Homo sapiens: one gene and its partners. The protein of the gene in region 1 purifies or fractionates together with the protein of each later gene. This does not show direct contact. Each region holds a gene or a part of one and is shown in the gene's direction. Other genes may lie near its edges.

Region 1 (7,031 bases):
TTTCCCCATCTCTAAAATGGGAATGCTGTACTGGTCTCCAGAGTTGTTTTGCCTGCAGAGAGGTGAGGAGTAGTTCCAGGTCACACATGCAATGGGGGCACAGCACCTAGATCTTCCGATCAGTGTCCATTCCGCCTCTCTGGTTGGACCCTGGGAGTGGACTGGGGAGGACCTGGCCGTGCTTCTATTCAGATTCTTGGAAAGTTCTGAATTGGAGGCTGACTATCCCCATGCAGCCTGGATGGGCTGGGATTCCTGGCTTTTGAAGGGGAAGAAGAGGTCACATGTGGGGGTGGCGGAGGGCTAGTGCCTCATGGGGAGAGCCAGGTGGCACTGCTGGCCCAGCTCATGGATGGGGTTATGGAGACTCAGAGGGGAACTCACCTGAGGTCACACGGCAGCCAGAGGCAGAATCGAAACAGAGGCCAGGATCCCAGGCCCAGGTGCCCTTCCTCACAAAGGCTGCCCTCCCTCAAAGGACATGGAGCAGAGGGAACCTTACTGGGTTTTGTGATTTCTTTCTTTCTTTTTTTTTTAATTTTTTTTGAGACAGAGTCTGGCTCTTGTCACCCAGGCTGGAGTGCAGTGGCACGATCTTGGCTCACTGCAACCTCCACCTCCCAGGTTGAAAGATTCTCCTACCTCAGCCTCCCAAGTACCTGGGATTATAGGCGTCCACCACCATGCCCGGCTAATTTTTTGTATTTTTAGTAGAGATGGGGCCAGGCTGCTCTTGCACACCTGACCTCAGGTGATCCGCCCGCCTTGGCCTCCCAAAGTGCTGTGATTACAGGGGTGAGCCACTGTGCCTGGCCAATAAGAAGGAATTAGAACAGCAACTTTTTTTTTTTTTTTTTTTTTTTTTGAGACAGAGTCTGGCTCTGTCGCCCAGGCTGGAGTGTAGTGGCATGGTCTCGGCTCACTGCAACCTCCGCCTCCCAGGTTCAAGCCATTCTTCTGCTTCAGACTCCTGAGTAGCTGGGACTACAGGTGAGCACCACCATGCCCAGCTAATTTTTGTATTTTTAGTAGAGATGGAGTTTCACTGTATCGGCCAGGCTGGTCTCAAACTCCTGATCTCATGATCTACCCGCCTTGGCCTCCCAAAGTGCTAGGATTATAGGAGTGAGCCACCGTGCCATGCCTGGTCTTTTTTTTTTTTATTAAGACGGAGTCTCACTCTGTCGCCCAGGCTGGAGTGCAGTGGCGCGATCTTGGCTCACTGCAACCTCCACCTCCTGGATTCAAGCGATTCTCCTGCCTCACCCTCCTGAGTAGCTGGGATTACAGGTGTGCACCACCAGGCCCGGCTAATTTTTGTATTTTTAGTAGAGACAAGGTTTCACCATGTTGGCCAGGCTGGTCTTGAACTCCTGACTTCAAGTGAGCCACCCACCTTGGCCTTCCAAAGTGCTGGGATTATAGGTGTTAGCCACCATGCCTGGCCTTTCTTCCTTCCTTCCTTCCTTCCTTCCTCTCTCTCTCTCTATTTTTTTTTTTTTTTTTGAGACGGAGTCTCGCTCTGTCGCCCAGGCTGGGGTGCAATGGCATGATCTCGGCTCACTGCATCCTCTGCCTCCCGGGTTCAAGTGATTCTCTTGCCTCAGCCTCCTGAGTAGCTGGGATTACAGGCACACGCTGCCAAGCCTGGCTAATTTTTATATTTTTAGTAGAGATGGGGTTTCACCACGTTGGTCAGGCTGTTCTCGAACTCCTGACCTTGTGATCTGCCCGCCTCGGCCTCCCAAAGTGCTGGGGTTACAGGCGTGAGCCATTGTGCCCGTCCTCTTTTTATTTATTTTTTTGAGATGGAGTCTCTGTCACCCAGGCTGGAGTGCAGTGGTGCAATCTTGGCTCACTGCAACCTCCACCTCCTGGGTTTGAGCAATTCTCCTGCTTCAGCCTCCCTAGTAGCTGGGATTACAGATGTGTACCATCACTTCTGCTAATTTTTGTATTTTTAGTAGAGACGGGGTTTCGCCATGTTGGTCAGGCTGTTCTTGAACTCCTGACCTCAAGTGATCCGCCCGCCTGAGCCTCCCAAAAGGAATGGAATCTCAATTGTCGTACGTCTACAGTGTGTGGGGCATCTTCATAGCACAAGGGGTTTTTTGTGGAGGGGGAAAGAGGAATAGCAGGCATGAGAAGGTCAGACCCAGAGAGAGCCCAGAACCGTGAGGGCTGGGATGGTATTTTCTATTATCTAGGAACCCTTGGTGGTCCCTGGTGGGTCCTGCAAGGGAGGGAAGCCTCTGTGAAGAGGCGGGGCCTGAGCTGGGGGTCCTGGCCTCTGGTCTCAATTCTGCCACTGGCTGCTGTGTGACCTCAGGAGAGTTTTCCTCTGAGTCTGTGTAACCCCATCCATGAGCTGGGCCAGCAGTGCCAGCCTGCCTCTCCTTACAACCTGTGGTGAGGAGAAACCTAGATTGCGGGGTAGAGGGGTCAGTTATCTCCTGAAAGATCCCAGGTGGCCAACTCTTTGGTCTCCACACCCGTCCAGTGTCCACAGCCCCCACCACCCGGAAGTTCTCCTTTCTGGCTAGCCTCCTTCCTTCCCACTGTGCTGGCTGCCACCAAGCTCTGCGTGGGCACTCCAGGCCACGCTCCCTGACAGGCGACCACGGCTCTGCTCATGGCAAGCATTCTTTTCATAGTTCCTGGAGCACAGCAAATCCAGCTGCTTAGCCAGGAATGCAGAGCCCCCTCCTGCAGCGGCAGCAGGGGCTGGATTGGGGTTGGAACCCCTGGGGGTCAGGCAGGAGGGACTGAGGGGGTGCGGGGGACTGACCTTCACCCCAGTACACACCATGCCTCAGCTTGGGGGAGCCAGAAGGTTGTCCTCATCTTTGGACTTGCTTAGCTTGGGGCCAAGCTCTGGGACCATCCTTCCCTGGCTGGGGGAACTTGGGCAAATGGTGAACTTGGGTTCACCACTGTGCCAGGCCAGTGATTATATTTATAATAGGGCATATTTATTTAGGATTCCTATATGCCAAGCACTGCTCTGAGTCCGTTACACAAAATTAACTTGTTTAATCCTCACAAATGCTCTGTGAAGCTGAGCTGGGCAGCTTTATATGGGCTGGGCAGAGCTGGATTCAGATTCCACCCCTTTCACTTCCTAGCCTGGTTACCTTGGAGAATGGATGTGACCTCTCTGGGACCTAGCACTCTTCCTCAGTAAAATGGGACAGCAGTTCCAGCCTTCCAGGGTTACGGGAGTAAATAATGCCTGGAGTTCCCATTTCATTGATGAAGAAGCTGAGGCCCAGGTGGAGGTCTCATGCTAGTAAGAGCTAGGGCTGAGATAAGGATGCATGCAGCTGGGCTCCAGAGAGGTCCTCTTAATCCGACATGATTTTTAAAGCAAGACTCTTAGTCCAGAGCCTGCCCGTAGTAGGAGCTCAGAAATGGGAAATTTTCCCATGAGCCCCATCTCTGGCAGGAGCCAATTGTTCACCTCATGGCCATCAGCACCTCAGTCTGGAAAGTTGGAATGGGGAAGCGGGCCTGAGGCCCTGGCCAGCCTCCCTGGAACCCTGCAGCTCTCAGAAGCTGGTTGGGGGTGGGGGGCGGGGGGTGCAGACTGTCCCACCCACATCTGGTCTGGGATTTAGCCAACAGCGGCAGGCTCTGTGCAAAGGGGAGACGTCGCCAGGGGAGGGGCTCCAGGAGGGGATTAGGGAAGGCAGCTGGGGGTGAAGGTTAAGAACAGAGTCCCATTGAAGTCGGCTCAGGCACCGCCCTGGCTTACCCACTCACCCCAGCTTCCTATTTGTAAGACAGAGGGGGCCTTGGCCCACTGGAGTGGACTCCTGAGGCACCTGATAGTAGCTGCCCACTCTGCTCCCAGCCTTGCCTGTCCCTGGTGCCATCTAGGTTGAGGCAGCACAGGTGGGGTAGAGCAGGAGTAGGGGGCAGGGCCCGTGGCTGAGGTCTTCAGGGAGCCCAGGTATACAGGGCTTTAGCCACCTGGGGGCCAGGCAGAGCTGGGTTCAGATCCCACCTCCTTCACTTCCTAGCCTGGTTTCCTTAGAGAATGGATGTGACCTCTCTGGGACCCAGTGCTCCTCCTCAGTAAAATGGGACAGCAGTTCCAACCTTCCAGGGTTACAGGAGCCAATAGTGCCAGGAGTGTGCCTAGTGCTATGTCCAGTGCATACAATGAACTTGGGATGCAGACACCGTTGTTCTTAACGGTTAACATGGGGGAAGGGAATGGGGAAGCAGCTTTAGGTAGGATCCGCATCTCTGATCCTGATATTCAAGGCATTTCTCAGTCTGGCCCCAGCCAGGTCTCCTCTCCTCAAATCATCTGTATGGTGAAAAGCCTAGGCTTTGGAGCCTGCAGCCAGGGTTCAAATTCAGGTTCTACTTTTTTTTTTTTTTTTTAAGAGATGGGGGTATCACTATGTTGCCCAGGCTGGACTCAAACTCCTGAACTCAAGTGATTCTCCTGCCTTGGCCTCCCAAAGTGCTGGGATTACAGGTGTGAGCCACTGTGCCCAGCTCCAGGCTCTACTTTTCATGAGCTGTGTGATGTTGGGCCAGTTACTTATCCTCTCTGTCCCTTAGTTTTCTCATCTGTAAAAAGGGAAGATGAAATACTTTTGTCACTGGGTTGTTGTGAGGATTAAATGAGATAATTCATGAGAACACCCAGAACGGTACCTGGCACACAGTGGGTACACAATGAATATTAGCTATGATTAGTTAGTTCATGTGTTTGTCTATTTTATTTGGATTCTCTCCATCCCCTGAATATATTCAGGGCTTTTACACTCTCACACATGCTGTTGCCTTGGCCCAGGACTGATCACCTCTCTCCACTACCAACCAGTTAAATCCATGTTCATCCTTCAAAGCCCAGAGCCAGCTTAAGTCATTTCTTCTCCCAGAGTCTCATGGTGCAGGGACGGGGCTGGGGCCGGAGAAGCTGGGGCTAAGCTGAGCTGGAGGGTCCTCCTACCTGGGCTCCATCATCCAGGCTGTGGCCCCATGACCCAGCTCTGGGGTCATAGTGTTCAGAGTGGCAGGATGGAGGCAGGGCTCAGCTGAGTTGGAGAGAAGGCCTAGTTGCTGCTGGCTCCAGCATCTGGCTGCTTGTGCAGCTACAGACAGGACTGGATGTCAGAGTTTCCATGGGAGCAGGCAGAGGCAAGCAAGCAGCTGGGGGAGAGAGTGACGCGGCCTGCAGGCCTCCCTGCCAGGTGGGCTGGCTGGGCATCCCCTCCCCATCTACCCCGGAGTCATGTCTGGGTCTGGACTTTAGCTCTGGATCCTCTGCGTACAGCTATGTGACCTGGACTACGACTTTTGTTAGATCCTGGCACCACACCTGATTGAGGCAGAAATGGGGACCTAGCCATCCAGGGCTCTGACCACATCACTTCCCCCACTAAATAACCCTCCATGGCTCCCCATTGCTCTCCAGAGAAATGCAAGCATGGCATTCAGATTTCCTCACCATGTTGCCCCAGCCTCCCCATCCCACAGCACTTCTGGACCTTCCCTGTATATTACTACCTGAAATTCCTTCTATCACCTCATCTGCCTTTCAGACTCCGACTCATCCTTCAGGACCCAGCTGCAGTGTCCCTTTCTCCATGAAGCCTTCAGGGGAAGCTTAAGTCGGCAGTATTCCCTGCTTCATGCTCCCACAGCCCAGAGATCTTTGCCAATTGTGTGATGACCGCTTGTCTGATGCCCCCAGCCCTTCAGGGCAAGGCAGGGCAGGGTATGGGGTTGAACCATTTCTGTGGTCCATGACCCAGGCTTGGGTCCTCCACATAGTAGAAGCTTCCCCAGCAGGGATCCTAACCCAAAGTAGGGGCCACCCCAAACCAGAGCTGACATATGGGAGGGACTTCTCCAGCATGGGAACCCGGGACACAGAAGGGGCATCCTCAGCCTGGGCCCTAGGACAGTAGGAACTCCTTGAATCCAGGGCCAGGCACCCCGTGGGTATTGCTAAGTGTGCACTGAATGAATGGAGTTGTGGAGTATGGGGCACATACCCTGCTTCCCTCAGGGGAGGAGGGAACTGAGAAGAGAGACTGAGACTGGGGCCGGGTTTCCAGCAGGGGGTTCTGGTAAGAAGCCCGGGGCAGGCACTGGTGTGGCTGTGGGTTAGGGCAGGAGGCTTCCCAGGCTCCTGATGTCATCGTCTCACTGTTCCTCCTTTTTTTTTTTTTTGAGACAGAGTCTTGCCCTGTCTCAGGAGTGCAGTGGTGCAATCATAGCTTACTGCAGTCTTGAACTCCTGGGCTCAAGCAATACCACCCACCTCAGCCTCCTAAGTAGCTGGGACTATAGGCGTGCACCATCATGCCCAGCTAATTTTTTAAAATTTTTAGTACAGACAATGTCTCCCTATGTTGCCCAGGCTGGTCTCAAACTCCTGGGCTCAAGCAGTCTTCCCACCTTAGCCTCCCAAAGTGCTGGGATTACAAGCTTGAGCCACTGCCCCATAGCCTCACTGTTTCTCTTGTTCATCCTCAGGCCCTGCCTCTGCTGGAACCTTCCCAGGCCCCTCCGACCTGAAAGGTAAGCTAGGTTTGGGGATGGGGTTTTCTGATATCTCAGGCCAGATGAGGCCTGTGTTCATTGCTGTCTAACCTCACTCCCTCCTGCTGCACCGGAAGCCCCTCCCAGGCCCAGAGAGTCCTGTGAGCCACCCCTTTTGTATGTGACCTCAGCTCCCTGCAGCCCGGGCTTTAAAACCCTGGCCCAACTCGGAAGCAGCTTTTTCTCATTTGTGAACTATTTCGCCTGGCTCCTTGGCGGGGCCGTGTTTGCTTGGCCCAGCCTGGGTGCAGTGGCCTGGCTGTGCTCCCGCCAGGCCCCCTCCCTGCCCAGCCCAGCCCCTCCTGCTGCCGCTGCTGCCGCCACCACGCAGGGTAGCCGCAGAGGCCCAGGAATCTTGGCAGGCGTGGGGAGGCAGCGGGTGGCGGGTGGCGCTCCGGAAAAGGCTGCAAATGCGAACCAGAAGGTGAGGGATTGGAGGCTGAGGAGGCCCCGCCTGCCCCTGC
Region 2 (7,586 bases), about 150 Mb from region 1:
ATATGAATTTTAAAATAGTTTTTTTCTAGTTCTGTGAAAAATCTCAATGGTAGTTTAGGAATAGCATTGAATCTGTAAATTGCTTTGGGTAGTATGGCCATTTTAAAAATATTAATTCTTCCTGTCCATGCATGCTACTTATTTTTCAATGCTCAATTCAAAGACATCTCTTTAATTAAACATTTCCTAGCTATCTCCACTTCCCCACTTCCTTACTTATGCTCCTTTTTCCATCATAAGACATAAAATGACTTATAGCATTTGTGCATTTATATGACACATCTTATTTATTCATGCATTTCCAGCAACTATATCTTGGCACAGAGTAGGCATTGAGCAAGTGTTTGAAGGAATGAGTTAATATAATTTAAGGGATGCATCTATTCTTAAATGAGACGTAGAAGTGTAGTTTACATTTGTATAAACTTGTTTTGAATTGGAAAACATTCCTCCGTAGTGACTATTCTATAGCTCTTGGATGCAGCCAGAGCATAGACAAAACTTTGACACTGACGTAGTTTAATTTTAGCCTTTCCCACCTCAGTCACTGCTCTTTTTCTCCCTTAATATTAATTCCCTTCCTAGGACCCAGAGTCCTCGGGCCTACGTATCAGAAATCCATAAAACTTGCTTTGTCACCAAAGAGACCCATGCTTCAAATTAGGATCCCATTCAGTTCCCTTTATCAAAACTTCTTATAGGCCATTTCAGTTTAGGTGATAAGATTTAAAAATCTGATTGAATTAAAAAGATATCATCTAATGCTCCTCTCTCAAGGATTTTCATGTTGAAATTGGCAGAATTGTCAATTCAAGTACATTTTACATTGTAGGATTTTAGGATGGATCAGAAAAGCGAGTAAAACAAACCAGGTAGTGAAAGAAAGATATTTCAGTACAGAAGAAAGAAGCCTGGATAATTCAGCCAAGAGACTCTTTCTGCCAACTATGGCCCAGCAGGACTTACGAGGGGCTGGCCACTTTCTCCCTGTTTTTCCAAGGGAGAAGCATTCAAATATTCAACACTCAAATGATTGGCATTTAGCAATTTCATAAATGTTTGTTGAATGAAAAAATGAGGCAAGCATTTAAAACTTTTTTACCTAGGAAGGAATTGATGTTCAAAGAGGTCAAGTTTCCAAGGTCACAAAGAGAATAAGTGACACCAGTGAAATGAAAATTCAGCTCCAAGTGTCAGTTGCTCTTTCAAGCCTATCACAGCTGCCCCAGAGGCATTTATTTCCTCCTCTTCTGGGCTGCTGGAGCCACAGACATCTTGAGAAGCTTTCCTGCAAGAAGTCCTCTGGCCACCTCATAGGCCCTGTCCCCACCACATTGCACTAAGGGTGACAGTCCAAGAGGTTTTGTTGTCCCAGATGGAAGTCCCCTGTGCTGGAACAGTATGGGGAGGGGATATGAGAGAAAGTGCTTACTTCTAACTTTATGTAGAATCAATTGGAACAGTCTACTGGCAGTGGAGACAAAGAGATATGTGTGTACAACCCTGACTTTCCATTCAGCCGATTTTCCATGGAAAGAGCATTATAAGCAATGAATATTTTAAAATATAATTGGCTTTTATTTTTAAATTAGTTTTTTTTTTCAAATTAACTGTCTTATAACATCAATCCTATGCGGGGGGGAAACATCCAAATTCACATTACTGATTTCTGAAGAACTTATGAAACAAATCTGTTAGTAAGATGGGGACTTAATTTTTCCCAGGCTTCCCCTCCACTGCCTCCCAACCATATTTACAATGATCTTCTACTGTTGCATACCCTGTTATTACCTTAATATTCTCAGTCACTAAATGAGCACTCAATTAAAAGTTTTAAATAGGTGTTTTGTAGGTTATGTGGCTGGGAAACCCTTGATTTCATCTACAGAGCAGAGCAGGTTGTAGTTATTTTAAGAGAACTCCATGGAGCCGATTTCATTATAATGTCATTAGAGACCATACAGGTTTAGATGCTTCACCTTTCTTTGAAAAAATAGACTCAGATAAGCTGTTGACTTTAGGTAACTGTATTAGTCTGTCCTCACGCTGTGAATAAAGACATAGCTGAGATTGGGTAATTTATAAAGAAAAAGAAGTTTAGTGGACTCACAGTTCCACATAGCTGGGGAGGCCTCACAATCATGGCAGAAGGCAAAGGAGGAGCAAAGACACACCTTACATGGCGGCAGGCAAGGGAGCATGTGCAGGGGAACTGCCCTTTATAAAACCATCAGATCTTGTGAGGCTTATTCACTATCACGAGACTAGCATGGGAAAAACCTGCCCCCATGATTCAATTACGTCCCACGACACGTGGGGATTATGGGAGCTATAATTCGATGTGAGATTTGGGTGAGGACATAGGCAGACCATATCAGTAACAGAAGGAAAATAAGACAGAAATGTGGTTGCCTAGCTTTAAACTCCCTCTGTTTGCAGTAAAGTGAACAAATGATAACTATCAAACCAAGTTTGGCTAAGGAGTGCGGATTTTAGTATTGAAAGATGAGTGGGACATAGTTCAAGAAAGGGAAACAAGAAAGACAGAACAACATGGAGATTGTCTGGACCTTTCTAACAGTCCCATCACTACCTCCCTTGTGGAAATGACCACATCTTCCTCTATCCCTTCACTGTAGCTGGTACATCTGTTACAGTACTTCTAACAGATGTTTAACTCTCAGTCTTCCCTACAAGACTGTGAGCCCCTTGAAAGTGGGAACAATTCCTGAAAATGGATGGAGGGGAAGGAAATGTCTGTAGGCCATTCGATAAAAAAATATGAAGATTAGAGAAGAGATTAGAGCAGAAGACATAGATTTTGAGGATATAACCACAGGAGACCATATGGAGTGGGAAGACTAGCACACTATAGGGAGGCACACAGTGAAGGGGCTTGGCTCAGAGACAAGTAGTATCAGAGGAGATCTAGGATGGGAGATTATGTAATCGAAGTCCAGGAAGGTGAGAACGGAAGAGTTTACTGAATCTGCCAATGCTGAGGCCATCTGTTGGTTTTGCAGAACAGTGGGGAGGGCTGACGCCTTACTGCACTGTGGTGGGAAAGATGGGAGATGAAGAAGTGGAGAATACAAGTATAGATCTCTCTTCCAAGGAGCTTGGTCAAGCAAAGGGATGACTAGAAGAAGACACAGGACTTTTTTTTAAAGCTTTTCTTTCTTTTTTTTTTAACGGATAAGAGAAGACTGACCAAGTATTTAGCTTGAGAGAAAGGAGTTGATAGAGATCAGTTGAAGATTCAGTAGAGAGTGGAATGATAGAGAAAAATCATGGGCTAGAAAGGGAGACCTCTCCCTTTCTAGTCTGTGATCAAAGACCCTGTCGTGAGGAGGCACCTGCAAGTAAGAAAGGTCTTGGTAGGGATGCTAGTTGGAGACAGTGGTGTTGGGGGAGCTGGATGAAGGAGGTGATATACTTCAAAAGACAGTAGGGAAGACTTCTAATAGTTGCTGAGAAGGATTGATAACAACTAATAAAAAGACTATGGGACAGACCTGAGGGTGAGTTGGGATTGGAGATCATGAATGTGCACTGGCACCAAAACACCCTCCATACTTATCTATCAAAGGCTACACAATATATCTTCAAAACTAAATATCCAGCCGAGCATGGTGGCTGATGCCTGTAATCGTAACACTTTGGGAGGCCGAGTTGGGCAGATCACTTGAGCCCAGGAGTTCCAGACCAGCCTGGGCAAAATGGTGAAAACCCGTCTCTACAAAAAAAAAAAAAAAAAAAAAAATTAGCTAGGCGTGGTGATGGACACCTGTGGTCCCAGCTACTCGGGAGGCTGAGGTGGGAGGATTGCTTGAGCCCAGGAGGTCGAGGCTGCAGTGAATTGTGATCGTGCCTCTGCACTCCAGCCCCGGCAACAGAGTGAGGCCCTGTCTCAAAAAAAAAAAAAAAAAAAAAGTAAATCTCCTTTAGCAGTGTATGCCAGCAGTTTCATTTTATGTGCTAATTGTGTTCTTCCTTCACCCCTTCTTTTCTTCCTTATCTCTTCTCTGCTCTCCAACATGCGCGAATTTTCCCTCTTTGTTACTCTATCATATTGGCTTATTACGGAAAAAGAAAACCAGCTAAGTGAATTTATTCTTTCACAGCCCTCCTGTGAGGAGGCTTACTGGGTTCACAGTAGAGTGAGGCTTCAGGACAGTGTCTCCCAAGGGCTTTCTTTTATTTTGCGGGGTCTGATCTGGCTCCAAAATTCTCCAAGTCTTCAAACTTTGTGTTATTAGGTGTCTACTCAGTCAAGAATGAATTTCAGAAGTTGAGTATATAAGAAAATGCGACATGCTGCCTTTGCGGTGGTTAAACAAGTGTTTGTCATAATCGTGAATAGTTGGGGAGACTTTTCATTTTAGAACTCTACTCAGTCAATAGGTGCATTATGAAAACTGGATACATTGCATCACTGTGAAGGGCTTCAGTCTGCGGTTTGCAAAAGCAGAATAAATTTTCTTGGGGTTGTACCGTTATGTACACACACACACACACACACACACACACACACACACACTCACAGGCTCATTGGCAGACAGGGCCACAACTCGCGGCTCTAGGGAAGGCCACAGACCTCAGCTGTACGAGCGGAACCTGGACTAGAGGAACTTTCCTCAGGACTCAGGGCACACAGCCCCTCGGCCACTACTGTCTGCGAGCCCGAGGCGCAGGGGAGCGCCAGCGGCTGCAGGTACGCTGCGCACCCGCACTGGGGCCTGGGCGGTGCAGCGGCGGCGGGAGGGTCCTGGGAACCGCAGCCGCCGAGGCCAGTGTGTGAGCCGGCCGGCCGCGGCAAGCCGCATCCCCCGGCCGCCCCTCGCAGCCCCTTGCTCCCCGGCAGCCGCCGCCGCCCTCAGGCAGCCCAGCCGGGCGCTCGCGCCAGGACTTCCCCGCCGCCCGCCTCGGCCCGGAACATGGCTGCGCGCCCTGCTGCCACCCTCGCCTGGTCGCTACTGCTCCTCTCCTCAGCCCTGCTCCGCGAAGGCTGCCGAGCGCGCTTCGTCGCCGAGCGGGACTCGGAGGACGACGGAGAGGAGCCGGTGGTTTTCCCGGAGTCGCCCCTGCAGAGCCCCACGGTGCTCGTGGCGGTCCTCGCCCGCAACGCGGCGCACACGCTGCCGCACTTCCTCGGCTGCCTGGAGCGGCTGGACTACCCCAAGAGCAGGATGGCCATCTGGTGAGCGCGCACGGGCCCCGGGCCGCCGCGGCGGGACGCGGGGGCGGCCTGCCCAGCGCGGACAGCGCCCGGAGCAGCAGCTGCAGGGCGAGGGAGCCGCTGGAGGGGCGGGGGGGCACGCGGAAAATCTGGCGCACACACCCCCTCGCTGCCCGCGCCGGTGGCTGGCGGATCGGGCGGTCAGGCTGCGGAGGGACGCGCGGGTCAGTGTGCGCAGAGGGTGCTGATGGGGAGAACCGGACCGCTGGAGCTCTGGAGGGTAGCCTGCGAATTGGGGCTTTGTCCCACAAGGGGCATGGGGGACACCCCTCAAGGGGACTTTCAGTTCCCTCGCTTTTAACTCTCGAGGTTTCCTCTTTCCCCACCTCATACTGCTAGCCCTGACGTGAGGGGATAGGGTGCCTGTCGCCGTATTCCCATGTAGATACGACAGATGGAACGTAACTGCGGTTGGCCAGGGGCTCCGCAGTGGCTGGGGCGCCGCAGTGCGCTGCTCTGACTTTCCGGTGCCGGGCTCCTGCTCCAGGCTGGAAATGTGCTCCTAGCTCTCCTAGGGGGACCTGGACCTAGGGGTGGAGATTGGGCGGAGCCCGCGGAGTGTGCCCAACCATGGCACCACCGTGGGCCTGGTCTCCTGCGAGCGCTCCGGGCTGTCCCTGCCGGTGCATCGGGGTTCCACGTCCCGGGGAGAGACGAAGATGCCCTGGGAAAGATAAACAGCCAAGTTTTGTCCCCGGAGGAAAGAAGCTTGGACCTGGTCCCTGTGTCTGCTGCGGGGAGGGCCAGGGGATAAGTGCGGGTGCCTGCCCGCCCCACCTTGTAGAACTTGGTCGTCTCGCACCTTTTATAAACGCGAGGATCCGAGGGCGAGAAGTTAGTTGGTGGCCAGGTTAGCCGCTGAGTGGGTTGTGGAGGACAAGGAGGTGGATGCTGGCCAGGGGAGATGTGCTGTCAGGTAGGTACTCGGACAAGAAGACTCTGGCCCCCTGAGGAAGACAGAGCCCAGGTCACTCTGGAGCAATTTCTGTCTTGTGTTGATAAAGGGAGCTGTTCTCAGGCGAGACACATCCTTAAAGCAGCGGTTGGGCAAAGAGAGGAAGAGGAGTAAAAGCAGCAGCTAGAATTGGCAGCCTCAGAGTACCTGGTGGGAGAGGTGCAAAGGTGCGAAAGCAAACATGTGATATAGTACAGCTCTGTGCTGTACACTGCTTTACTATATACCCTGCCATACGTGACCGCCTGGCGGAGAAGGGCATATTATGTGGAAAGAGAGCACTGGGACAGCCAGGCTTTAAACCAGAAGGAAGGATTTTTTTTTAACCACTTCGGTACCAAAAGAAATTCACACATATCAGTTACCTTAGTTGTTGTGTTTTTTTTAAGAGATATTTTAAAATATGGTTTTGATCTTTATGCATGATTTAGTTTTTTAAAACGTTACAGTATTTACCATAAGAAGTTGGTGAGTGGTGAAGCAGGTGTCAGGCACATGCTTTGCTACCTGATTTAGAGACATTACCTCTTTTTATCATACAGTAAACTTTTAAGAGGATGCTATGATGTTTATTTTGCAAAGAAAGAGACAGACTTGCATCAGTTCAGTAAGTCACTTAAAGTGACAGAATTAATAAATGGTGAAACTGGAATTTGAACCCAAGGCCACCCTAAAAAGGCAGGAAACATGATATAAACAAAATTTACATAAGCCTATAATCTACAAATTAGGAGACTTGAGTTGTTTATTACTAGTTTGATATGTGATTTGGGGCTGGTTGCTTGGGATCCATAGGCATCAGTTGCCTCATCAATAAAACGAGGGAGTTGGAATAAATGATTTCAAAAATTCTTTATGGCTCTTGAATTCCATAGATTTTGCAATATAATTAGGATCAACCAGCATCAATGTACATCCTAAGTTCCCTGTAAGTTCCAGATGGTATGGACACTGGTGTCTTACTTAGATGAGAGAATTCCAGTTCTGCATAGACCTTTGAAATCTGTTGTCTTTTATGTCCAGCATTGGCAGGTTAAGCAAGAAGTGCAAGGCCATGCTTGCGTCAGTCATTGAAGACTCTTCTTTGAAAAATTTTGGTTCTGTCTTTAAAACATTGTGTAATTCTTTAGGTAACAATAATACAAATCCCAGTTTCTAAATAGTTCTTTTCAGCTCACAAAGGAGCTGTAAAGAACCTTTGGAAATAACTTCCATGCACTGTTAACTCATTTGATTCTTACTGCCATTCTGTGAAGAAATAAAATTATCTCTATTTCCCAGAAGAAGAAATGTGTTTAAAGTGATTGACTTACTCAAAATTACATTTATTTATAAATTCCACACATAATAATAAGAGCTCGTGGTTCTTCTAAGAACTTCACATTCATTTTC
Region 3 (4,186 bases), 6.6 Mb from region 1:
GGCATCCCAGTGTGATGCATGCCACAGTAGCATGGAGGAAGTTATAGTCAACCTACCTGGGGATCAAGAAGGCTTCCCAGAGGGAAATGGGGTGCAGCCAGAAAGGGGGCCACCCGTCACTTGTCACACAACGCACTTTAATGGGGAAGCTGGTGCTAAACCATTCATAGAGGACCTGCCTCCGGGTTAGGGTTTCATACATAGCTGAGCAGCTCCCTCGCTGCCATCTGTTGAAAGACAGCCCTCAACAGAAGGGCTTGTTAAAAGCAAAAATAATAACAACAACAACAACAACAAAAAGAAGGCTTCCCAGAGGAAGCAATGGCAGTTTTGCAGGATGAATACGATTACGGAGTACTCCGGGTGGTGGGATGGTGTTTGCACAGGAGTGGAGGCATTGTGCAGCCTGGTAGTCAGGGGAACTAAGAAAGGTGCCAAATCCTGGAGAGCTACATTCAAGGGAATTTTTATCCTTTAGCTCAACCATAGCTATGTGGCAGATTCTCTTTTACTAATTGTTAAATACCAAATTTGTGAGAGAGCTTCGTGATTTACAAGTGAGAGTGGCCTGGAGGTTATTCCTCATTCCCTCGCCCACCCACATTCCCTTTTGCATGTCCAAGAAGGGGAGAGGTTCAGCTAGTGCTGCAAGGATCCTATGTGGCCCAGAGCCGGCTCTGTCATACTGGAGCCTCCAGCAGGCCCCTGGCAGTGATGGCCATTGGTACGTGGCACAGATCAGAGGGCTTTCCTCTACCTCAGAATGTTTGGAATTCTGTCACAATCTGGGCACACCCAAAGGGACCAGTCAGACACACAACTGGGTGTGTCACAAGCCCCCGGTGGGAGAGCACAAGCACAGGTGCCAGGAGGCCAGGGAGGCCTCATCAAGCAGTGAAGGACGTGGTGAGGCCTTGACTTTTAAAGGATTCATTTTGCTGCTGTGTGTGTGGAGAGATTTCAAACCAAAAAGGGAAGCTGGTCAGCAATGACCTCTGTGGACAAGGGCAAAGCCCTAAACTCAGGAAGTGGCAGTGGGAGGAGGGAGAAGTGAGGCCCCGGGAAGGTGCAGGAGGTGGATGGACAGGACCTGGTGACTGGCTGGACAAGTGGGAATGGAGAAGGAGGCACCCACCACGACGTGACGGTGCCTACATAGAGCATGCCAAAGGTTTGCGTTGGGGAAAGACGTGGTCTGCCTGGCATTTGACAGTGAGCCCGGTCTGTTCCCTTTCGTGACCTTCTCCCTGCATGGTTTCTCCACCCACCCCACCCCAGAGCCCCACTGAAGTTCATGCTTTCCCTTTGCTAGCCAGCTCTTCTCTGCCCCACTTCCTGCCACTCAGCCCCATCTCCTGCAGTCCTGATGGAGGACTGACCCACTCTGCCCTGCGTCCGTCCCACCTCCTGATCCCTCATTCTCACTTCCCTGGGCCTTTGTATTTTGTAAAGTCCAGCTACAAACCAGGGTTGTGCCATTCTGCCCAGGATCTGCCCTTGGTTGGAGCCCTTCATTCCTGCTTGCCACACCCTGCTCACTTCTGCCAAGAACTGTCCTAGGAAGCCTGCAGACTTGTCCTGACCCCTAGGCTTGTGGCTTAGCCAAAGACACCCCCCTAGTTCATTGGGCATTCCGTAGACTCAAACACATTTTGGGAAGCACCTCCCCTGCCAAGAAGAGAGCTATGCCGTCTCCCGAGGTGCTCCCTTGCTAACATGTGTGACATTGGCCCCAGAGGTCCAGGCAGAGAGGAAGGATGATAGTCATCCAGTCCACGTGGACAACTGCATCCTGAATGCCGAGACCCTCGTGTGTGTCAAAGAGCCCCCAGCCTACACCTTCCGCGACTACAGGTGAGTGCGGGGCAGGTGCAGGGTGAGGAGGTCTGTGCCCTCCTCAGAGGCCCCACAGTGCCCTGCACTCTACTACCCCACCCTAGCACACACACACTGGTTGGGGCTAGCTGTTCCCAGAGTCCAATCCTTTATCCCCAAACCCGCTGGATAAGAAGATAGGCAAAGAGGGAATCATATCGTGGTGTGACAAGAACGGTAGTGTGAGTGGGCACAGGGGACTCTAAGGCGAGGGTGGAGAGTGGAAAGGTGGAGTTTGTACGGCATCAGTATAGGTTCTTAAAGGTTTCCCTCCCACACAAAGCCACCCTCCTGCTGCTGGTTGAGAGCACCTGGAGGTGAAGGCTCAGGGGAAAGGGAGGCAGGGAAGGGCCATGATGAGATGTCTCTGCCTTTCCCAGCGCCATCCTTTACCTAAATGGGGACTTCGATGGCGGAAACTTTTATTTCACTGAACTGGATGCCAAGACCGTGACGGTGAGTGCTCCCTTGTCCTTGTCCCTGGGAGATAAAAAGTCTGTTTTCTACAGCTGATGTTCCCAAAGTGCAGTGGACAAAAATAACCAACTGGGCTTCCCAGTGGGCGGTACCCTTCCCCCATCCAGAGGGGCTTTGAGACGTGTCCATCACTCCTCTAACCAGTCACCCTTTCTCTTTAGTTCTGGTCTTAGGGAAGCCATACTGAAGAGCTGCCCTCGGTCGTGAGCCCTAATGAGCCCATGTCTCTTCTGAGAGTGGATTACAGTCTTTGTCCTGTGCAACCCCCCTCCCTTTCTGTCCCCCTTAGGCAGAGGTGCAGCCTCAGTGTGGAAGAGCCGTGGGATTCTCTTCAGGCACTGAAAACCCACATGGAGTGAAGGCTGTCACCAGGGGGCAGCGCTGTGCCATCGCCCTGTGGTTCACCCTGGACCCTCGACACAGCGAGCGGGTGAGAGCAGCTCGAGCGGGTGAGAGCAGCTGGTGCTGTGGTGACCCGTTCCCAGAGCGCCCTTGGTTTGCCTTTCTCTTCCCCAAATCCCATTGCCAGTGGCTGAGACACGAAAGGAGCACTTGGGACACCAGCTCCAACGCCCTGTCATTATGGTCACATTGCCTTGTCCTCCCTGGGCCTGCTGTGAACGGGATCCAGGTGGGGAAAGAGGTCAAGACAGGGAGCGATGCTGAGTTCTTGGTTCCCTCCTTGGGCCCCACTTCAGCTGTCCTTTTCCAGAGAGTAGGACCTGCTGGGAAGGAGATGAGCCTGGGGCCATTAAGGAACCTTCCTTGTCCCCTGGGAAGTAGCAGCTGAGAGATAGCGAGTGTCTGGAGCGGAGGCCTCTCTGAATGGGCAGGGGTTTGTCCTTGCAGGACAGGGTGCAGGCAGATGACCTGGTGAAGATGCTCTTCAGCCCAGAAGAGATGGACCTCTCCCAGGAGCAGCCCCTGGATGCCCAGCAGGGCCCCCCCGAACCTGCACAAGAGTCTCTCTCAGGCAGTGAATCGAAGCCCAAGGATGAGCTATGACAGCGTCCAGGTCAGACGGATGGGTGACTAGACCCATGGAGAGGAACTCTTCTGCACTCTGAGCTGGCCAGCCCCTCGGGGCTGCAGAGCAGTGAGCCTACATCTGCCACTCAGCCGAGGGGACCCTGCTCACAGCCTTCTACATGGTGCTACTGCTCTTGGAGTGGACATGACCAGACACCGCACCCCCTGGATCTGGCTGAGGGCTCAGGACACAGGCCCAGCCACCCCCAGGGGCCTCCACAGGCCGCTGCATGACAGCGATACAGTACTTAAGTGTCTGTGTAGACAACCAAAGAATAAATGATTCATGGTTTTTTTTACTTGGTTTGTTCAGACAATGGAAATTTGCCCATTCTGTCCCAGAGGTCTCACTTGATAAAAATTGCTCTAGGCAGGACCCAGTGGCAGGTGTGGGACGAGAAGTCCTGGCTTGGCACCTGGCTCAACCACTTGCTGTGCAGCCACAGGCCAGACACTTAACCTTCAGCACCTCGGGGTTGTCATCTGTATAATGGGGATCATAGTCCTCCCTCTGCTCACCTTCTGGGGCAGCTGTATGGCCCAGATGCAATATCGGATGTGACAACACTTTTGTAAACGGTAAAGCTCTGGGTGAATGGTTGGGATTATTGTTAATCCTCTTCTGGCAGGGAGCGGCGGTCAGCAGTGCTCTGGCACGTCACCCCTATGTCAGCCACATGCTTCCTGCTCTGCCGTCTGGCCTCAGTGTCCTGTATCTCGGCCTCCCTGTGCAGGAAGACACACTCTAGGAAACACTGGAAATGGAGATTCAGCTCCTCTGGCTACATCCCTGGTACTAGGTCCA
Region 4 (7,031 bases), on another chromosome or scaffold:
TGTCTTTCTTCTCTCCCTTGCAGGGCACATGACTGACCTGATTTATGCAGAGAAAGAGCTGGTGCAGTCTCTGAAAGAGTACATCCTTGTGGAGGAAGCCAAGCTTTCCAAGATTAAGAGGTGTCCTAAGTCCCCAACCATCCTTAGTTGGCCTTCCTTCCCTTCTGCCCCTCAAGGAACAAGGAAGCCATCCAGGGTGCCTATAAGAGGAAACCTTTGAGAGGGTGATGTGGGGCTGGCCTGGTTACTTCATGCCAGTGCTTGAGAGGAGCTAAGTACATGGGCTAAGGAGTCACTGTTTATTTTCTATTTAAGACCTTTTCCCTTACATTGGGGGTCCCAGCTGTTATCTAGATTAAGGGGCTAGAAGTATCTGTGGGGAGTTACTGTATTCATTTTTCATTGCCTCTTGATGAAAAGGGCCCCAGAACCTGGCACCAGGGAATTCTCACTAGGAAAATTGTCACAGGTCAAGACCTATGTGGGTGGACGCATTAGTCTTCCTTTTCCTCTGGTTCCACAGCTGGGCCAACAAAATGGAAGCCTTGACTAGCAAGTCAGCTGCTGATGCTGAGGGCTACCTGGCTCACCCTGTGAATGCCTACAAACTGGTGAAGCGGCTAAACACAGACTGGCCTGCGCTGGAGGACCTTGTCCTGCAGGACTCAGCTGCAGGTGAGGGACGGTGAGCAGGTGCTTGAGTGAGCCCATATGTTTGTGTGCTCATGCCTGGGTTGTTGTGTCTGAGCCTGTCTTGGGTCTGGGTGTTGGTGGGCAAGTACATTGTGGAAACAGGACCCTGCTGGTCTCATGGCTCTCTCCCTTCTCTGTGGGGACCTGGAAGTTGGCTGGCCTTGGTTTTTAACATGTAATGATGTTCAGTTCTTTTTTTAGCGTCTTTTTTTTAGTGTCTGTCTTTTCTTATTTTTTGCTAATGACATTTTTCCAATTATACTTTAGTGATACATGTTTATAGAAAAGTCGGAAAACACAAAAACAAGAGAATTATAATTCTTAATCCAGTTGCCCAGTGGTGAGCATTATTAAAATTGTAGTTTTTCTACCTATGCATATACATTTAAAAAATGGAACTATACATACATACCAGGGCATGCAAACTCAGTTGCTTGGAGGGACAATGAATTTACAAGTGTCAAGTGGGCTGGATGGTGGGGCCAGGGCAAGTTGGGGAGCATAGGTCTGATCTAAATTCATTCCTATTCATATGTTTTACAAACAAAGCATATCTGTTGGTAGATTTGTGACAGAAGAAAAAATTCTGTGAATTTCTCAGCTTCTTTATATGCCATTCAATGTTCTTCTGCAACATGATTTTAATGGCTGGATGGTGATTACCTGTCAGATGGTGATAATCTGTCATACTGATAATACTGTCAAATGGGTCAAGTCATTGGATATGGGATTTTTTCTGAATTATCAGCACCTTTTTACATATTTCTTGGTGTATACTTCTGATTACTTTTTTAGGGTAAGTTCCTAGAAGTGATATTACCGATGAGAGTGTGAACTTTTTAAAAGCTTTAAACTATACTTGGTGCTTTTATTGTGATAATACTTTTTATGCCCTAATACTTTTCTGTCAATAAGAAGAGATGGTACGGTGGGCCTGGAGGTGGGCTCTCCTAACTCCTAGCCCTGGGTTTAGTCCCCTGGACTCACTGACTTTTTTTTTTTTTTTTTTTTTTTTTGAGACTGAGTCTCACTCTGTCACCAGGCTGGAGTGTAGTGGCGGGATCTCGGCTCACTGCAACCTCTGCCTCCGGGTTCAAGCAATTCTTCTGCCTCAGCCTCCTGACTAGCTGGGACTATAGGCACATGCCACCATGCCCAGCTAATTTTTTTTTGGTATTTTTAGTAGAGACAGGGTTTCACCATGTTGGCTAGGATGTTCTTGATCTCTTGACCTCGTGATCCACCCATCTCCACCTCCCAAAGTGCTGGGATTACAGGTGTGAGCCACCATGCCCGCTGCCTTTTTTTTTTTTTTTTTTTTTTTTTTTAAAGGGACAGGGTCTCACTATATTAGCCTAGACTGGAGTGCAGTGGCTATTCACAGGTGCGATTGTAGCACACTGCAACCTTGGACTCCTGGCCTCACGTGATCCTCCTGCCTCAGCCTCCTGAGTAGCTGGGACTATAGGCACAGTGCCATTGTACCCAGCTCTTCACTGCCTCTTTTCCCTGAGCTGTGAGTGCTGATTAACTTCAGACTAGCTGTCTCTCTGGCTGAGACATTTTAGCCCATGTGGCCAGACTGGGTTGGGCCTGGGGGCAGGGTGGCCTCTGGAGAGGGATTGGTGAGCTCAGCCAGGCTGGAGCTGTGCCCAGTGAGCTCACTGCCTCCAGAAACCACGGCTGCCTTTCCCAGACTCCCGCCTCTCCGCCTGGGCCTGCAGCTCGGGACAGGCTGTTCTGCCTGCACGGCAGGAGACTAAGCCTACCCAGATGACCTCCTCTCTCCAATCTTGTTCTCCACACCCTACACTCCCACCATCATCTGGTTCCTTTGGAAAACCTTATGATTACCTGGAAGGAGATAGGGCAGGCCCAGAGAATAATTGGTTGTTTTCATCTCTGACTTTGAGTTCTTGCCCCTGAAACGAGCAGGGCATGCTGACAGTGTGGCTTTTCCTGGCAGCATGTTCCCCTACTCCCACCCCACCAGATTCTAAACTCTTTAGAGTCCCTGACCATGTAGCTATGAAGACAAGGAAGGCAGGGTTACAGCTTCTTGGTCCCTGTCCCCAGTTATGGCTGAAGTGGATGTTTAGGTCTGAAGTCATAGGTGGCAGTGGATACAGCTACTCTTGGGAAGAGGTTGGGGAAGGAATGGCCTTGTTGTTCCCCTCTCACTTCTCAGCTTAGAGGCAGAATTGAAGGCCCTAAGTCAGCCTGGGAAGGCTTGGCTCCCACCTGGGATTGTAGGAGGTACACATCTTACTTTACAGCTAGGGCTTGGAGTCCCAGAAAAGCCTCCTTGGAGTACTTCTGTGGTCAAAAGCTCTCCCACGCTTCAGGCTGTGGTCTTGAGCACCATAACTGGAGAGCCCATGCCCTGAACTCATTGAAGGTCTGAGTGGTGGGAGTACAGAGGAGAACAGGCCCACCGTGGTCTCTTAGGGGACGGACCTTGCTGGGTTGGTGCAACCCCACCTTGGTCCTTGGCCTGTCTAGGTGGTCCTTCAGCTGTCAACCTAGGGGGAGGGGGATGACTTCCAGGACTTTCATCATCACCTTTCTGGATGATAAGTGCCAGTGGTCAGTAATGAGTGGCCAGCTCGGCTTCATTAGTTAACTGTCATTGTCCCTTGGACTCCTCAACTTGAAATGTGTGCTGGAAGTCTGTGTTTACCTGACTAGCCCAATTACCCTGGATCAAGGTTTTCCATGGGATTTATTTTCCACTGAGTGGTTGACAGTTCTTCCTGAGTCCTCTCCCGTGCTCTTCTCAGTTACCCTCTCTATCCTCTGTTTCTTCTGTCTCCACCAGCTCTGACTGAATGATTTGGAGCCAAGACTTCTGGACTCCTAAATATTAACCAATATGGGGGGCTGCTTCTACTTAGTTCCAAAGAGCAACACAGGCAGTAGGTATGGTGAGGAGTAAGAAAGGAAAAGTCCCCATAGACTGGAGTCATCAGGGACAACTTCCTGGTGGAAGGGGGCAACAGCCTTTGAGGGAGGGGGCGGGGAAATTTCACTAGCCAGAGACCCTCTTTGTGGCTGCCTCTCTGGTCCCAAGTGGAATTCTGCCCCTGGATCAAGGGTAATCTCTTGTTCTGACTCTCATTTGGAAGGTTTTATCGCCAACCTCTCTGTGCAGCGGCAGTTCTTCCCCACTGATGAGGACGAGATAGGAGCTGCCAAAGCCCTGATGAGACTTCAGGACACATACAGGCTGGACCCAGGCACAATTTCCAGAGGGGAACTTCCAGGTAACTCACCACTCCAGGCGTTGCCTGTCCCGCATGTGTCTCTTTAGTGGCGGGACAGGTTGGAGCCACCACCAACTTGTGGCCTTTAACCTCGGGTGCACCTCTGGTGCACCTCTTGGCTCACCAGTTTGTGCTGGACTCCCTCTCCCATGACAGGTTTCTCCCTCAGCCCCTGCCCTGCCACCTCCCTCCATGTATTAGCCAAGGCCCTCTCCTCTTGCATCTCAGAGAAAGCCAAAGTTGCTGCTCAGGAACCCCCTCCACGTCTGTCCCCAGAGCACCACACAGATCTGCATTCAGACCTGCTTCTTGTCTCCCACCCTCCAATGTCTTTTCATCTAAGGCTGATCTGGGCTTACTATCCCCCTGTCTTGAGTCCTCTTAGTTACAGTCTCTGCTCCTATACATTCTGTCTCCACCTCTCTGGGTTCTACCCTTGAGCTCCCATATAGGCTCTATTCTTGCTCATCTTAACACTTGCCTCCCTCGGTATCTGAGAGTCTTTCGAGTCTTTGCTGCTGATTCATCTCTTCTCCCCTCCTGGTTAGGCTACTGGATAGAGTAATCTACACTCTGTCCATTTTCCTGGTTCCCATATACTCCTGAACTCACAGTATCTGGCCTTTTTCCCCACTGTCACTGATGCTGTTCTTACAAGGTCATCAGTGGCCGCTTGGCTGGTAAACCCAGCGAACAAGGTTCACACATAATGTTCTTTAACTTCCCAGCAGCATTTGACAGATAGATTGCCTCATTCTTTGTGATGTTCTCTCCTCCTTTGAATTCTGGCATACTGATATCTGCTTCTCTTTTAGCCTCTCTGGTCATTTTCTCTCAAGTGGCCCCTCTCCCACTGACTTCCCAGTGTTAGTGTTTATAAGAAGATGTTTTGAGGGCTGCTGGAGACAAGTAACCCCAGCGATTCACTGTGTGAGGCTCATGCAGACCCAGCTTATTCCAGCTCCAGAACCTCAGCTGCCCCCTTTAGACTCCATTAGAGAGAGGGCAGTTCAGGGCACCTGCAAGATCTGTTCACTCTGTAGCCTTGAGATTGGTTGCTTGGAGGAGGGAACCATACCCTGGCGTTGACCTCTCACGTTCACTCAGCAAACCCATGAGTGTCCTGAATAGGGTTATGGGGCAGAAAGGAATTACTCCCTAGGACTCCATCCTTACCTCATCTTCTCCCTGAGCACCTTCCCCAGGTGAGCACAGCCATTTCCATCACCTGAGGTGGATGACATCCAGATCTGTGTTTCTTGCCAAGGCTTGTCTCCCGAGCTTCTAACCAGTGTAGACGGATGCCTTTGGGACATCTGTACTTGAATGTCCCATGGACTTCTCGAACTTCATGTGTCCTGAACTGAAATCCTCATCTCCTTGTAAACACTTTACCTTCCCCCTCATCCTTCTATCTCAGCAAAAAGGACCTCCATCCTCTGGCTGCCTAAGCCAGAAGCCTAAGGCCTATGGATTCTACCTCCTTCTCTCATGTCTTCCGTGCTTATCCCCTGACTCCAGCCTCACAGCTACTTTTTTCTCAATTTGATTATCAAAATACCATTCTGACTTGTCTCCTACCTCCAGCTTACTGCTTAAGACCATCCTCCATGTGGTCTTAAGCACACATTTGTTCACATGAGTTCCTGATTACTGTGCTTAATTTCCAAAGCTAAACCCAAACTCCTCCTGTGTGTGGTCTTTGGGGTCCTGCATGACTCCATTTTCCTGGCTTCCTTGCCCATTGTACTCAGCTTTCCCTATCACTCAGCTCTTTTGTCTCAACCCCTCTATAGGAATACCTTTACCCATGTCAGCTAGGCTACTCCATGTCTGATTGCCTATCAGCACTCAGCTCAGCTGTCACTCTCCCAAATGCTCTCCAGGGAGTAGACATTCGAGTTGGCTCTGGGGAGGATGCTGAGTGCCAGGGAGCCATTCTTAGCATTCTTGGCATCTGGGAGACATGTTGATAATAGCTACTGGTCATTAGCATCCTGGGGAGCATAGGAGACATCTTCATATGTCATCTTATTGAATTCTTGCCACAAGCTCTTTAAAATTGATGATATTATCTTTATTTAGAGATAAGGGGACTGAGACTTAGATATGGTAACTTGTCTATAGTCACACAGCTGGTTGGCGCCCTAGTGAGGCCAACACAAACCTAGTTTAGTTCAGCTCCAGAGCCCCAGCTCAGTCAGCTATGTTACTCTGCCCCAGCAATGTAGGTTCCTGGGCCTGCAGAGCCAGAGGAGACCTGTGGAGAAGGAAAAGGGGCTCCAGGAGCCCCCCAGTCCCTGGCCTACCTAGGGACTTCATCTTGTGTTTACTGTCCCCAACTTCCTATTCCTCGTTATTGGTTCCTGAGCCACCGGGGTTAGCAGACCCTGGTCTCTGAAGCATTTAGCCTACTGTGTAGTGGTTTCATTCCAGGCAGAAAGAGCCTTCTCTGAGTTCTTTTGTGTCAGCCATGCCCAGGTTGCTGTTAATGGGGCTGTGGGGAGTCTTCCTTGCTTTCCAGGGAGAGTCACAGCCCCCACTTCCCCTCCATGGTATCTGCTTTCTCATTATTCTCTGAGGAACCACACACATAGTCTTTCCCATCTTGAGCTCACCCTAAATCCTGCATCTCCCTATAGCTGCTTCTTCATATTGGCTTGAAACTATCTTCATGGTCACTTTCCAGCACTCCCTCTACAGCAGATGACCTTTGGTCATAAGACCCACTGAACTGATACTCAGCAAGGTCCCTGCCACTTAACAGCCAAAGCTGGCACTGCAACCTTGGCTCTTGGCCTCCCTTGGTGTCTCTCACACCACTCCCGCTCCCTCTGTTTCTCCTATCTTTAGTTCATTCTCAGGGTTATTCATTGTCTGTTCTTTCTGGGTAGGTGCTCCCTGGAGCTCTGGCCTTAGTCATCTTCTCCATTCTTTCCTCAGAGTTCCTGCAAGCTATTTTCCTCACCCATGGCTTGGTTGCCACCTAAATTTATGTTTTTTATATTCAGCTAATTTTTCCATCCTCTAGACTCATATGGCAAACTGCCCACCAGACATCTTCTTCTCTGTGGT

The links.
Region 2: the proteins of COL8A2 (region 1) and COLGALT2 purify together in Homo sapiens (affinity purification with mass spectrometry; 3 studies listed by BioGRID and IntAct, with this or other methods). This does not show direct contact.
Region 3: the proteins of COL8A2 (region 1) and P3H1 purify together in Homo sapiens (affinity purification with mass spectrometry; 2 studies listed by BioGRID and IntAct, with this or other methods). This does not show direct contact.
Region 4: the proteins of COL8A2 (region 1) and P4HA2 purify together in Homo sapiens (affinity purification with mass spectrometry; 3 studies listed by BioGRID and IntAct, with this or other methods). This does not show direct contact.

The regions. Positions count from the first base shown.
Region 1 is NC_000001.11:36,115,223-36,122,253, reverse strand, and holds part of COL8A2 (collagen alpha-2(VIII) chain isoform 1 precursor), read left to right. Parts: intron 1-6,501; 5' UTR 6,502-6,546; intron 6,547-7,031. UniProt on the Homo sapiens protein: Macromolecular component of the subendothelium. Major component of the Descemet's membrane (basement membrane) of corneal endothelial cells. Also a component of the endothelia of blood vessels.
Region 2 is NC_000001.11:184,034,709-184,042,294, reverse strand, and holds the start of COLGALT2 (procollagen galactosyltransferase 2), read left to right. Parts: upstream 1-4,566; 5' UTR 4,567-4,937; coding exon 4,938-5,200; intron 5,201-7,586. UniProt on the Homo sapiens protein: Beta-galactosyltransferase that transfers beta-galactose to hydroxylysine residues of collagen.
Region 3 is NC_000001.11:42,745,868-42,750,053, reverse strand, and holds the end of P3H1 (prolyl 3-hydroxylase 1 isoform 1 precursor), read left to right. Parts: intron 1-1,736; coding exon 1,737-1,854; intron 1,855-2,255; coding exon 2,256-2,331; intron 2,332-2,641; coding exon 2,642-2,782; coding exon of another isoform or gene 2,783-3,142; exon of another isoform or gene 3,143-3,201; coding exon 3,202-3,357; 3' UTR 3,358-3,680; downstream 3,681-4,186. UniProt on the Homo sapiens protein: Basement membrane-associated chondroitin sulfate proteoglycan (CSPG). Has prolyl 3-hydroxylase activity catalyzing the post-translational formation of 3-hydroxyproline in -Xaa-Pro-Gly- sequences in collagens, especially types IV and V.
Region 4 is NC_000005.10:132,210,841-132,217,871, reverse strand, and holds part of P4HA2 (prolyl 4-hydroxylase subunit alpha-2 isoform 2 precursor), read left to right. Parts: exon of another isoform or gene 1-23; coding exon 24-120; intron 121-523; coding exon 524-675; intron 676-3,818; coding exon 3,819-3,956; intron 3,957-7,031. UniProt on the Homo sapiens protein: Catalyzes the post-translational formation of 4-hydroxyproline in -Xaa-Pro-Gly- sequences in collagens and other proteins.